2 linked regions of the Homo sapiens genome follow. The protein of the gene in region 1 purifies or fractionates together with the protein of each later gene. This does not show direct contact. Each region holds a gene or a part of one and is shown on either strand. Other genes may lie near its edges. The genes, in order: GOLM2 and KDM3A.

Region 1 (3,101 bases):
TGTCTTGTTCATTTGTTTACTTGTGTATTGTCTGACTGCCCCCACTTGAATGTACGCTCCATGCGAACAGAGACCTTGTCTATCTTATCCACTTATCTTAATACCTAGAACAATGCTGGGCACATAATAGGCATTCAATATTTGTTGAATAAACTAGACCTACAGTAAAGAGCCCTGGTGTAAAAATATTTGGTTTTCAGGACGGGTATGGTAGCTCATGCCTGTAATCCCAGCACTTTGGGAGGTCAAGGCAGGTGGATCACCTGAGGTCAGGAGTTTGAGACCAGCCTGGCCAACATGGTGAAACCCTGTCTCTACCAAAAATACAAAAATTAGCCAGGTGTGGTGGCACGTGCCTGTAATCCCAGCTACTTGGGAGGCTGAGGCAGGAGAATTGCTTGAATCCGGGAGACAGAAGTTGCAGTGAGCTGAGATGCGCCACTGCACTCCAGCCTGGGCAACAGAGTGAGACTCCGTTTCAAAAAAAAAAATTTGGTTTTTTAGTTTAGCTTAACTTAAAATGAGTGCTAAACTTACTCAGATTTTAGTGTTAAAATGTATTTACATCATGGGTGTGATGTTTGTGTATGTATTAGAATCAGCAAAACAGTGAAACAAGTTTAATTTTTAATTTATTAGAACCCAGTAAATGATGATTTTAAAAGCAGAGTTTCCATCAAATTAACACTTAATTCAGGGCAAAAATACATTTAAAAAACCTAAATCTTAAGGCAGAAGTAAAACATTATAAAAACAGTATGTCTAATACAGACTGTAAAATGTCAGATTTTTAAGAGATTCACATAGTATTTTATAGCACTAAAATATTAATACAGTCAGAAATATTATCAATTGGTCCAAGATTTCTGTTTATAAAATGTCTAGACTGCTAATTGAAGAAATGTTGCTGTATAAGTAATAGCTACAATACAACCAACCAAGTGATTGTTTTTATGACAAAAGAACTAAGGCAGGTAATTGCATGGTTTCCATTTGTAAAGCTTTTGCAGTATTAAAATATAAAGCATTACTAGGGGTATTTTTTGATTCATCTCCCTACCCTAATGCCCCCGAAATGTACATCACTTCCCTTTAACTCTATTTTAAAATTCTGTGAAACCACCATACCTATTCATTGTAGGCCTGACCCTATAAAGGCATGAATTGTTTAATTTGATATGGTAGAAAAACAATTTTAGTAAACTACTACATCTTTTCCTAGTCATTGAGCAATTTCAAACAGAAGTCTTAAGAATTTTTGCACCTCAGCAAGTGAACAACCTGTTTCTTTACCACTATAAGTTTGAATTTTGCCTAGAATGTGTTAGTACACAGGGGAAAACACATTTCATGTTTATGTGCAATTAACAGTAGCCCTTCTGAAAAACAGGGTTAACAATCTTAAATTTCCCCTTGTGATCAAAACCTTTTGTTTTTAGGGGGCAGGATAAGATTTAAAAGTGCTTTAAATCAGAAAACAAGAATTAGCTAGCTTACACATTCCACTGAATAGTGTCAAAAAAGATAAATGCATTTAAAATAATTTGTAAGTCTAGCAAATATAAGCTTGACGGGTTCTTAACTAACATATTAAGTAATTACAAAGATTCATTTTTTTACAAACTTTTAAGCTATTTTAATAAAATGGCTATAGACCTCACTGTACTTCTATTTATCTGTGCATTAATAAAAACCTGTTAAAATTCCTTATTTAGTACTTCTGAAAAAGTCTAATCAAATAAGATCACTAAAATTACCAGAAAAGCTTTGAAATACTGATTGCAGATTCATTTCAAAGTAGATTTAACCCCTTTCAGGATCTGGTGTTTAAATCATGAATGTCTTCACCAACTTCAACTCTGAAAATATAAAAATTTTAGCCAGTTCTGGCTATAGTTAAACAGTACTGGTATTACTTGAAAAAATAAAAATTAAAAATATATTGTCAATCATGCATTCCACAATTTCAAGAACTAAGATATAACTCATAAATACTGTTATGTCTTTGCAGGTTATCTCAATTTCCATCAGGCCTCAGCTGAAAGCTCATCTGCCAAAACACATCAGCACTCATGTAAAATAAAAGGAGTAGGGAGGTGACTTTCTACACAATACTGTACAGTGTTTGGCTTCCAGTTTCCCTCTTGTGTGTAACTATTCTAGGTATGACTCCTTGAGCGTGAAATGAGGGGTAGATAGAACAGAACAGCTGTTGGGCTAACAAGAATTAGTGTGTAGACTGGGCGCAGTGGCTCATGCCTGGAATTCCAGCACTTTGGGAGGCCAATGCAGGAGGATCACCTGAGGTCAGGAGTTCAAGACCAGCCTGGCCAACATGGTGAAACCCGTCTTTATTAAATATACAATTATTAGCTCTCTATTAAAAATACAAAAATTAGCTGGGCATGGTGGTGGGTGCCTGTAATCCCAGCTACTTGGGAGGCTGAGGCAGGAAAATTGCCTGAACCCAGGAGGCGGAGGTTGCAGTGAGCCAAGATTGTGCCATTGCACTCCAGCCTGGGAAACAAGACTAAAACTCTGTCTCAAAAAAAAAAAAAAAAAGAATTAGAGTATAAAAAGTTTTCTGCTGAATATCTGTTCTGTTCTTACTGTGGTTATGCTATGCCACATATAACCTGTACAACTATTTTGTCCTGTTTATCTATTTGTGGAAATAAGTCGGCTCAATAAAATGTGAAATATACATTAGTTTGCTTTAGATGCAAAGATTAGCTGTTTTTGGCTTAACTGTATCATAACCAAAAAAGTCTATACCTTGATAATACAATATGAAAAAGTTCACATATGTACATGGGTACATTCCTTCATTAAAGTTTTTCCTTAATTCTATCTCAATGTATCTTTACAACTGATACAATTCGTCTTTACAACAAAAGTCAGAAAGGACAAAGTAGAATGATTTCATTTTACAGCACTTTAGGTTTTCTGAAGCATTCCTTTAGGACTTAAAGGACATCATTGAAATGTTGCTTTCCATAGTCTGCAGGATCCATTTGAAGCTCTCGTTCTTCATCATCTGTAAGTAAAATAATTTTGTATCAACATATTATTTTTTAAATCACTGCAGAAATCCAATTAAT
Region 2 (3,831 bases), on another chromosome or scaffold:
ATTAGTAGTTCAAGGATGTAATTTTAATTACTCAGATATTGAAAGACATCCTTTGAGTTGAGCCAGGCTTCCACAGATCACAGGCAAGAAGGTTATCTTATCTGTTCTATCCTGGCTCACAAGAGGAAATATCTAGAAACAAGAAAGCTGAACTGTCTAAATCTAGCTCTTTACTGAGGAGAGCAACAGGTGCTACCATCAGTGATTCTCTGAATTCAAAGCCAAGTCAAGAGAAAAATGCAACGCCCACTTCCGAGGAGCCACGTATCTATCTGAACGGAAAAAAAGGCAGCTGTTTGACTCCAGTTTGCTTTTGTTTTCTAGACCCCAAGTGGAAGAAAGGAGCAGAAAAGTTTTCCAAGCCTTCTGTACTAACATGCAGTACTAGTGGACACAGCTCAGAAGTCCCGGTAGGCTTCTGATCACACTCTCACACCTCAACCAAAAAAAAAAAGTCACAGTAGATAGCAGGATGTGCTACTCCAGGATGTAAGTTTTTCACTTCTTTTAAAATCCATTAGATGGGGAATAGCTACATAACATATTAAATGAGACAAAGCTGGACTCCGTAACTCACTTGTGTATCTATCATGTGCTTATTGCACTAGAATCTTTACTGTTTCGTCACATAATATTAAATTTGCTTCAAAAACTAGCTGTGTGTGAGAGCTGATGATTCAAAAACAACAAATAGAACAAGGATATGGTTATGAATATGTACTTTCTTTTGAGTGTTACCTAATTTCTGAGAACAGGATAATCTTATGCAATTAATTTTATGCAAATTAACAGCTATATTAACTTAAGCCTCAATGAAGAAGCTAGGTTAGAAGTATTGCTAGGCAAAGAAAGTTCTTTCTATTCTTCCAATGCTATACTAAAAAGATTCGCAAGTCAAATCCAGCCATCTTGCCCTCTAATTTCACAGAGGCCTGCAGTTAAAAAGATAGTGTAGATATATTCATTTTTACTGATCCAAATAAATAAATTGTTTTCGTAGGTTGTTTTCGTTTGTTTGTTTTTTGAGCCAAGCTCTCACTCTGTTGCCCAGGCTAGAGTACAGTGGTACAATCATAACTCACCGCAGCCTCCAACTCCTGGGGTCAAGCAACCCCCCTGCCTCAGCTTCTCCAGTAGCTAGGAATAACAGGTGTGCCCCACCATGCCTGGCTGATTTTTAAAAAAATTTTTTGTGGAGATGGGGTCTCACTATGTTGCCCAGGCTGGTCTCAAACTCCTGGTCTGAAGCAATCCTCCCACAGTGGTCTCCCAAAGTATTAGGATTACAGGTGTTAGCTACTATGCCCAGCCTAAAACATTAACAAAATCCATATCAATTTCCCACATAGCTAACAGTGATCAAAAGGCATCTTTAAATTCTAATAGCTCTAAACCTTTTGACATGCTGAAAACATTTTGTTCTTCTAACTCTAGTAACAGAGCTTCTGATAACTACCACCATTATAATGCATCCTCAAACTTCATATAAGTAGCATCAAGTACAACGTACCAATTTCCCCATAAGAAGAGTAGTTTTAAATTGTGGGTGCAGCAGGACCTCCCCTTAAGCAAAGAGACTCTTCCTGGTAGTTCAGCCCTATCCGTAACATCTTTAACCCAAGTCCTTTTTCCAGAAATGATACAATTCTGCATCTTTTCTAAAATTTCAAATCTTAGCTACCTGTCACAGATCACCTCTTCCTACTCCAACCTGGATGTAACAGAAAGATCAGTGACAAGCTGAAATAAAGTAAACACCAGATTACTTTAGATTTTGTTTCAAAATTTTCTTAACCTAAGAATTGGGAACCACCTAATTACCCACCTAATAGGAACCAGTTAAATCCTATGGTAAATGAACATAATGGAATCCTTGCTTTAAAATACTAATAGACACCTACACTAATTCACAGGGTAAAATTATTGGCATGAACCCATTTGTGTAATACAGTTTATCTGTATTTCTATATACATGAAACCAGGTACACCAAAATATTAACAGTAATCGTTTCTGAGATTTGGGAATTATACCTTCTTTCAACTTTTCTGACTGTATAAACTATTTCTACAAAGTCATTTTCACATAGTTTCTCATAGGACAAGAAAGAGATATATATATCTACCATTTCTTACCTTCTACCAATAAAGATATTGAGAAACACTCACCATTCTGGATTTTATTGTTGCTTCTTGAACAACAGCTTTCATTATCTACTTTTACTGAAGATTCCTTTAAATTCTGTGATCGGCAAGCTAAAGCTGAAGGTTCTACCTTTTTTCCTGAACAGTTATTAGGGCTATCACTATTGACACCTGCTTTCACTTCTGGTGCATTTGAAACATCCGATGGGGAAGGTGCATGTTCTAGGTGCTTCTGCAGTTCAGGAGGATTGGCAATTTCCAATTCTGCCTTAGAAGAAGCCTTTGTAGGTAAGCACTCCTTAGGAAGGCCAGTCAATGCTTGTGGAACAGACTCCAATCTGTTTTCCTGATCAGTGTTTGTCTTAGGCTGAGTACAGCTGCCTTTTGGCTCAGTCAGAATTTTCAAGTCTCCAGTTCCAATCTGAGAGGACTTTGAGAGCAACCCTGCTTTGCAGACATCTGGTTTTGTTCTCAGAGCTTCAGACTTTGTATTTAGACAGGAAGAAATTTCCTCTGGTAAACTTTGTTTATGACATCTGAAAAATATAATATAGAAAGCTAGCATCCAGGCCTCTTTTTATCTCTCCATTATCTTCCCCAAACAAACTGTTTGGTTCCCTAAGGTAACGAGTATGAAAGAAAAAAGAAAATTTCTCATATGTTACAGAATTTAGGATAGATTTCTGTGAGCTAGAGTTAAAAGTCATCAGTCAATGGTTCTGCAAAAATCATAAACACTCAGAAAAATACAACCCTAAATTATGTCTGCACGTTCTCAGAAATCTTTAACTTCTTACGTTAGTTCTACTTCTCACAGCACAATGAACCTTAGCTTTCCCTCAAAACAAAATATTGTATGAAACCAAAGAATATACTCAGCAGATAAGCTGGTTTATAAGTATCAAAACCAGAAGTCTGTGTAGGGGCAATTCCGAAAGTTTTCTTTCTTCTTTTTTTTTTTTTTTTTTTGTGTGTAAATTTCAGAGAAACCTCTGCTAAAACTCTTTCTTCTATAGTAAAGATTATGTTTGAATTTTAAAGATAAAACTCCATTCTTGCTACTTGCCAAGAGTCAAAAATTGAACCTCTAGTAAAGGTCAATGTGTCAAGATAAAAATTCTAAAATATATACGTATATAAAAAATGTTAGAAATCCCTTCAAAGATATTCACACAAAATCTAATTAAAAACGAACAATGGGCAAGGCACAAGGGCTCACACCTGTAATCCCAGGATTCTGGGAGGCCAAGATGAGAGGACTGCTAGAGGCCAGGAGTTCATGACCAGACTGGGCAAAATAGCAAGTCCCCCATCTCTACAAAAAAATTAAAAATTAGCCTGGTGTGGTGGCACGCGCCTGTAGTCCCAGCTACTTGGGAGGCTAAGGCAAGAGGATCAATTGAGCCCAGGAGTTCAAAGCTGCAGTAAACTTAAACTTTGACTGTACCACTGCAACTGCACTCCCTCCTGGGCAACAGAGCAAGATCCTGTCTCTAAAAAACCTCAAAAACTAAAAAAAAACTAACAAACTGGCAGCAGCACAAAACCCTTTTCTGCTATGAGCAACATGTAACCAGCCCTAACAGAGAATAATTTCATTCTTGTTTGTTCAGTGATCAGCACACAGAGCAAATAGAATAGCTGATTGATTACTTGGTTATTCACAGAACGATTTGGTATTTTCCCTGT

Evidence for each region.
Region 2: the proteins of GOLM2 (region 1) and KDM3A purify together in Homo sapiens (affinity purification with mass spectrometry; one large-scale study listed by BioGRID and IntAct). This does not show direct contact.

The regions. Positions count from the first base shown.
Region 1 is NC_000015.10:44,413,272-44,416,372, reverse strand, and holds the end of GOLM2 (protein GOLM2), read right to left. Parts: intron 3,038-3,101; coding exon 2,967-3,037; 3' UTR 615-2,966; downstream 1-614.
Region 2 is NC_000002.12:86,465,219-86,469,049, reverse strand, and holds part of KDM3A (lysine-specific demethylase 3A), read right to left. Parts: intron 2,679-3,831; coding exon 2,167-2,678; intron 1-2,166. UniProt on the Homo sapiens protein: Histone demethylase that specifically demethylates 'Lys-9' of histone H3, thereby playing a central role in histone code.